Homo sapiens: one gene and its partner. The protein of the gene in region 2 purifies or fractionates together with the protein of the main gene of each other region. This does not show direct contact. Each region holds a gene or a part of one and is shown on either strand. Other genes may lie near its edges.

Evidence for each region. The genes of interacting proteins can lie anywhere in the genome.
Region 1: the proteins of CRACR2A (region 2) and ORAI2 purify together in Homo sapiens (co-immunoprecipitation; one study listed by IntAct). This does not show direct contact.

Annotation. Positions count from the first base shown.
Region 1 is NC_000007.14:102,432,190-102,436,374, reverse strand, and holds the start of ORAI2 (protein orai-2), read right to left. Parts: upstream 2,801-4,185; 5' UTR 2,714-2,800; intron 174-2,713; exon of another isoform or gene 151-173; 5' UTR 42-150; intron 1-41. UniProt on the Homo sapiens protein: Pore-forming subunit of inward rectifying Ca(2+) release-activated Ca(2+) (CRAC) channels.
Region 2 is NC_000012.12:3,743,110-3,746,609, forward strand, and holds part of CRACR2A (EF-hand calcium-binding domain-containing protein 4B), read right to left. Parts: intron 1-3,500.

The sequences.
Region 1 (4,185 bases), on a different chromosome or scaffold from region 2:
GGAACAGTTCTGTGCTATTTCTGCCAGGGGATGCCAATTACCAGGTCATTTATACGAATGCCAACTCAGGCTCTCCATCCCATCTCCTTGCGCACATCCGCAGCCAGCAGCACCGCATCCAAGCACTTCCATCCCTGGGACGTTCCTTCCCTTGGGGAGAATTCAGAGAAACGCTGCAATCCGTAGGTTAGCTCCACATAATAGAAAATGCTGTAATTTGGAAACTGCATTTTTCCTCTCCCCCCACCCCCATAGTTAACAGAATTGAGCATGCAGGTCTGATGACCGCAGTATACAGAGACTGGAGGGGTGAGACGCTAACCTTTGCTCCCTCCGTCCTCCCTCCTCCATCACACAGGTGCTTAGCGCACTTGGTACTTAAAGATCCAAGATGAAAGAGGCCAGAATTCATGGCCTCCCAGTAGGGGAGCAAGGTAAGGGGATGTGGGTCAGGAGCAGTAGCTCACACCTGTCATCTTTGGGAGGCTGAGGTGGGCGGATCACTAGAGGTCAGGAGTTCGAGACTAGCCTGGACAACATGGTGGAAACCTGTCTCTTCTAAAAATACAAAAAGTAACTGGGCATGGTGGTGGGCGCCTGTAATCCCAGCTACTCAGGAGGCTGAGGCAGGAGAATTGCCTGATCCCAGGAGGCGGAGGTTGCAGTGAGCTGAGATCCTACCGCGGCACTCCAGCCTGGGTGACACAGTGAGACTCTGTCTTAAAAAAAAAAAAATAGCTGGGTGTGGTGGCAGAGGTTGCAGTGAGCCAAGAGCACACCACTGCACTCCAGCCTGGGCAACAGAGCGAGACTCCATCTCAAAAAAAAAAAAAAAAAAGAGGGGGGGGCAATCCTCATCCACTGAGCTAAAGGCTTCAATGGAGGGCAGGGAGCAGAGGACTGGCTGCCTCACACCAAGGCCAGGAAAAGGTGCTTGCAGGTAACACCGGGGAGGGGACAGAGCGGCCCTTTGCATGCCAAAGTGCCTCATGCCTGTAATCCCAGTGTTTTGTGAGGCCAAGGTGGGAGGATCACCTGCGGCCAGGAGCTGGAGACCAGCCTAGGCAACAGAGTAAGACGCTGTCTCTAAAAATAATTTTTTTTGACATGGGGTCCTGCTGTGTTACCAAGGCTGGAGTGCAGTGGCACAATCTCAGCTCCCTGCAAATTCTACCTCCCAGGCTCAAGCGATCCTCCCGCCTCAACCACCCGAGTAGCTGGGACTACATGTGTGTGCCACCATACCTGGCTAATTTTTGGTATTTTTGGTAGAGACAGGGTTTTGCTATGTTGGCCAGGCTGGTCTAGAACTCCTGAGCTCAAGTGATCCGCCCACCTTGGCCTCCCAAAGTGCTGAGATTATAGGCATGAACCACTGCGCCTGGCCTCTAAAAAGAATTTTAAAAAAGAGGGACCTTTCCTCAAAGACAAGATGCTGCCTGCATGGAAGGATTCCGAGAGACGGGAAGGCCACTCCAGGTGTACATGTGGGGTGGCTCTCCTTGTCCAGGAGATATGGAGGGAAGACTGGCTGCCACCTGGGGGGTGGAGGGGGCAGGGAGATGTGGGTGGAAGACACTTGGAGCCTGGGGCTGTGGAATGAGCCAGAGGGTCTGGGCAGCATGACTGGGCGTCCAGCCACAGGAGAATGGAAGAAATTGGTGAGTGGAACGGTCTGGGCACTGCTAGATCATTCTGGTTTGGGACCACAGTTCAACCCAGGGAAATGGCTGGCCGACTGGCAGGAGTGGGACGCAAGGGAGAGCCTGGTGGCCTCCAAAGGAAGGAAGGGTGAACAAGAGGGATGCCCCATCAGTAAGGGTGGGCTGGGCTCAGGTCTGAGAGTGGAGGTGAAGAGCTCAGGGCAGTGAGGGCTGAGGGTGGCTTCCTGGGAGCCGCCAGGCCTCCCATGCCCCATCGGTGAGGCCCTGCAGATGTCCCCAGAGTGGGTGGGATTGTGGAGGAAACGATGTCTGTCTGCCTGGAGCTGGGTCTTGAGACAGGTCTCCAGGTCTCGAAGGAGCAGCCCAGGAGGGGGTTCAAATCCATCCTTTATGTTCCCAATGCCAACTGTGTGTGCCAGGCCCGGTGGCCCAGGGGGAGGGACAGAGTCTGGGCCTCACACTGGATCCCAGGCAGGGGGTGGGGTGGGGCAGGATGGAGCCCTGTACTTCTGTCAGGTGGCACAGACCCTAGAGGATGCTCCGGGACTGAACCTTGTGGGGTTGCTTTTTTTTTTTTTTTTTTTTTTTTGCTTTAATGAGCAGTCCGAGAAAACAGGTCTTGTAGAATAACGCGATCCCCTCTCTAGAGATGAGCTTTTCTTCCTGGCTGGCCTACTGGACACATTTCCAGAGGGCGGTCTTGGAGTTTGACTTCCTCTAAGCATCTGGGGCACCGGCAATGGCGAGTGTCTCTCTCCAGCAGGCGCACTGGGAGGGGGCCTCCCAGGGGCGCTAGGCTGCATCCCTGTCCCTCCCCCAGGGACGCCCCGGTGTCCGGAACCGGCTGCGCCGCCGACCCTGATCCTCTGGGCGCCGCACCCCGCCAGGGATCCCGCGGGGTGGAGGTCACCAACCCCGGATGGGTAGTGACCGCGCCCGGGCAGCCTACAGTCGTCCCCTTCCCCGCCGAGCGTCCCCGGTCCAATTCCGGCCCCCCCAGCCGCAGGGACCCCGCTCCCCGCGCCAGGCCCCCGCGCCGCCACACTCACCGGAGCTGCCCTCGCCCCGCCCGGCTCGGCTCCCGCTCGGACTGCGTGGCCGCGTGGCCTGTGGCCCAGTGGCCCGGCCGGGGCGCCGAGCGCGGCCCCCTCCCTCCTTCCGCCGGTCGCGCGGGGTCCCCCGGCCCCGCCTCCACCCCGCCCCCGCGGCCGCCGCAGCCGCTGCCAAGGCAACCAGGCGCCGCCAACACGTGACCCACCCGCGGGAGAGCCGCGGCCACGTCACCCGCCGGGCCGGGAGGGGCGGGGCTGGCGGCGCCTCCTCGGAGAGTGGGGGGGTGGGGGTCCCCGCCTCACCTGGAACCACCCCGGGATCGCGCGAGGGAGAGGAGCAGGGGAGGTGGGAAGACCCCGACCCGCGCGCATCCCTCCTGCCCCAGCTCCTGTCCCCGGCCCCAGCTCTGGGAGTCAAGGCGAGGCCCCCCACCGCCCCATCGGGGGTCCGGCTACCCACAGACCACGAGCTGGGCTTTCCCTGCCCCTGGGTCCGGGCGCAAAAGGGGAGCCCCAGGCTTGGCAGGGTGAGCCTCGGGGGGTGCCCAGCATTGGACGCTGGCTGCGTAGAGGGGCGGGGAGTGGGGACAGGGCGGGCGGGTGCAGGTGGGCAGTGGAGGGGAAAGGAAGGTGGGGAGGGGAGAATCCGTCTGGCCACGCCCGAGTTTTCACAGGATTTTTTTTTTTATTTTTTTGAGACAGGGTCTGGCTCTGTCGCCCAGGCTGGACTGCAGTGGTGCGATCACGGTTCAATGCAGCCTCGAATTCCTGAGCTCGAGTGATCCTCTGCCCTCAGTCACCCAAAGTGCTGAGGCTACATGTAGGCAGGAGCCACCACACCGTGGTAGTTTTTAAAAAATTTGTTTTTGTTTGTTTTTTGAGAGGGAGTTTTGCCCTGTCACCCAGGCTGGAGTGCAGTGGTGCCATCTTGGCTCACTGCAACCCCCGACCCCGGGGTTGAAACGATTCTCCTGTCTCAGCCTCCGAGCTACAGGTGCACGCCACTAGCCTGGCTACTTTTTTGTATGTTTAGTAGAGATGGGGTTTCACCATGTTGGCCGGACTGGTCTTGAACTCCTGACCTCAGGTGATCCTGCCTGCCTCGGCCTCCCAAAGTGCTGGGATGATACATGTGAGCCACTGTGCCCAGCCAAAAAAAAAAAAAAAAATTCTTTTTTTAGAGATAGAGTCTTCCTGTATTGCCCAGACTGGTCTTAAACTCCTGGCCTCAAGCAATCCTCTCTTAGCCTCTCAAAGCACTGGGATTACAGGCATGTGCCACAATGTCCAGCTAATTTTTAAATTTTTTAAAAAAATTGAGATGGGTCTTGCTATGTTGCCTCTGCTGGTCTCGAACTCCTGGGCTCAAGTGATCCTCCCACCTCAGCCTCCCAAAGTGCTGGGCATAGAGGCATGGGCCACCTTGCTTGGCCCCTGCCCAGGGTGTTGGATGGCACCATGAAGAGCTT
Region 2 (3,500 bases):
AGTACAAATTAGAACTTTTCATTCTATTTCAAACTTCTGTAAATAGGGCTTGTACATTTTTTAAAAATACGTTTAGTTTGCGATGTGTGACTACGTAATGGAAGCTGAGTAACTTTTCTTTTTTCATTGACACTCATTTTACCTGGCAGTTCCTTTTTGTGTCTCTGGTTCCACTTCAAGCTGCAGTTCAATGTACTAAAACTGCATTCCTTAAAACGAAGTACTATATCAGACTTTTAAACTGGCCTTTTCCATCCCTATATCTCTGGATGGCCTGTGCCTGGGGCAGCTCACCTGATACGGCGTCGGCGGCTTCTGCCTCCCATTTTACAGGCGTGTGGAGAGAGCTCTGTTATGAAGCAGACCCTGCAACCCAAGGGGTCGGCCCTTTGTAGGAAGCCAGTCAGGCACAGGGGGATCAACAGCCTGGGGGAGGTGTCCACGGTGCAGGTGTCTATACCGGGACTAGGTGTCTGGTGTGAACCCACACAAGTTGTTGAACCTGTCTGAGCCTCAGTTTCCTCAACTGTAAAAAGGACATGGTAAGACCTATATCAGAAAATGCCTGGCACATGGCAGGCATTTGACAAATTATCTTATTATGAAGCATGCAGCCCACCCAGAAGTTTGTTGAATGCTTTGCTGTTTCCCCAGCTGACTTCATTCCCAGAGTTAAGCCACATCAGAACCCTGTGCCCTAAAGAAAGTTCAACCCAAAAATCTGAGTTCTGAGACACACAGTAGGGGCTTGCAGTCCATGGGGAGGGTAATGACGAGCAATAGGAAATGTGCCAGAGGACACGTCGCAGAAGATGTGTCAGATGCCAGAAAGAATGCTCGCTGGGGAAATAGCAAATACACTCTGTAGTATCTGTGGCCAGGACAACCACAGCCTAGGAACAAACTGTGTCCTGAGTAAATGCAGAATCAAGCTGTGGTGAGATACCAAGAGGGGACAGGAAAGCAAAACAGATCATGACCAAGAACAGGAGCTGAGATGGTGACCAAACCCCTGCTAGCCAGAGAACGTGCACCAATTCTCTGCCTTGGGAGGAATCCACGGTCAAAGCTAAACTCACACTTTCATAGTATGTGTGTAATTAGTTGAAAAGCTTAATTTAACAGTTTGGTAAATTCCATTAGCAGTTTATCTGTGGTATGTAATGAAGCTATTTTTAAGTGAATCCTTTTTGGCTAAAGGCCCCAGTGAAGAATCCTAATGGAACATGGTTCACATAATACAAACCCAGATCCGTGCAGATGCTAGAAACCTTCTCGAGTAGACACTAATGTGCCCAGACAGGGAAGCTGTGCTTGACTCTGTACAATGACACCCCTGTCTAGATGAAGCAGGAAGAATCAGAGAGTCCAGAATCAAGTCCCAGCTCTGAAATTACACTGCCTCGGGTATGTTACTTACATCTGTGGTGCTCACTTTCCTCATCTGGAAAGGGTGGGTGATCATACTACCTTACAGGACCCTGGGGAGAAATATGCAAGGTTCTGTACAAAGTACTTAGCCCACAGGAGGGCAGTCTCACAGAAGTGCTTTTGATTGAAGCAGATAATTTTTTTTTTAAACCCAAACAAACAGAAAGGAATAAGAGAGAAATGGCAGCAGAAAGATTACCCAAGTCGACAGGACATCTGATGGTGAGGCCATTGTGCAGAGAGCGAACTGAGACGGTATCACTGTATGACTTCCTGGAGCCACAGTTAAAACCAAACCTTCTCCAACCCCATCAGTTTGAGAAGAGGAAACAATTCACAATGTGAATATACTTACTGCCACTGCGCAGTATACTTAAAATGGTTAAAATGATACATTTTATGTTATGTATATTTTATCACAATGAAACAGTGAAGATCCAAAAACAAACAAACAAAAAACCCTAAACCTCAACTCTCTGCCCACTGAAGACAGTCCAATAAAAATAACATAAAGAAGAGTTGGATGGCCTTCCCTCTGTGGGATTCTGTAGGGAAGGCTGTGTCCATGCACCCAGATGCCACACCAAAGGCCCTGTGAGTCAAGATCTCCATCCTGTGGATGATCTGTATCCGGGGTGTCTGTTCAATCCAAACTCCCAGAAGACCCGAAAACCAAAAAGCTACCGCAGGCCATGGCACCACTGAAAGATCTAGAGGTTCTTCTGCTGAACAATGTGTTATCCCTGATGGTATCTCCCCAATGGCAATTTCTGACCGTGATTCAGATGACACTACCCACAGAAATGAACTTCCAAGAACTCCTCCTCCCTCAATCCCACCGTGTCCTCCTCTGGGGATGGTGGCGCTGCTGCTGTCTTGCTCACAAAACCTGCCTTGGGAAGAAAGCCCCTAAAATTTCAGCCCTGCTCAGGTTAAGAAATAGTAGCTTTAGGCCAGGTGCAGTGGCTCACACCTGTAATCTCAGCACTTTGGGAGGCCAAGGCAGGCAGATCATTTGAGGTCTGGAGTTTGAGACCATCCTGGCCAAGATGGAGAAACCCCGTCTCTACTAAAAATACAAAAATTAGCCAGGCATGGTGGTGCATGCCTGTAATCCCAGCTACTTGGGAGGCTGAGGCAGGAGAATCGCTTGAACCCAGGAGGTGTAGGTAGGTTGCAGTGAGCCAAGATCATGCCATTGCGCTCCAGCCTGGGCAACAAGAACAAAACTTCGTCTCAAAAAATAAAATAAAATAAAATAAAATAAAATAAAATAAAATAAAATAAAGAAAGAAAAGAGAAGAGAAAAGAAAAAAGAAATAGTATCTTTGACAAACCATCTCCTTCCCTACAGAAAAACAAAACCTGGCTGAAGGCAGGAGGTGTCTCTCTGGCCAGTGTCTCTCATCTCCCTCCCGCTGACCTCCCTGACCCCATTCATGTCTTCAGAAGGGCATGGCCCTGTCGAGGGGGTGAAGGGCTGTTCCTGTGCCTCAGGGCCCTGTGCTGTAAATGCTTCCCAGCCTGGGCTGTACTTCTAGGTGCAGCTCAAATCCTACCTCCTCTCTAAAGCCATGAGAAATATACTTTACTTACTTGCCTATAAACACTAACATCATTGGTTATTTTTCATATCATCTCCTGCTATGAGCTAAATTATGTCCCCCCGACAATTCATATGTTGAAGCCCTAACTCTCAATGTGATGGTATTTGGAGGTGAGGACTTTAGGAGGTGATTAGGTTTAGATGAGGTCATGAGGGTGGGGCCCTCATGATGGGATTAGTGCCCATCATGAAGAGACACCAGAGAGCTCTCTCTCTCTCTCTCTCTCCCCATCTCTCTCTCCTCCCTCTTCCCCACCCTTCCTCCACCCTCCCTCTCCCTTCTTCCTCTCCCATTCTCTCCCTCTCTGTGCCATGTGAGGACACAAAAAGAAAGTGGCTTTCTGCAAGCCAAGGAGAGAACCTTCACCCACCAAACTGGCACCATGATGTTAGACTTCCAGCCTCCAGAACTGTGAGAAAATAAATTTCGGTTGTCTGTGATATTTTGTTCTGTCTGCCAGAA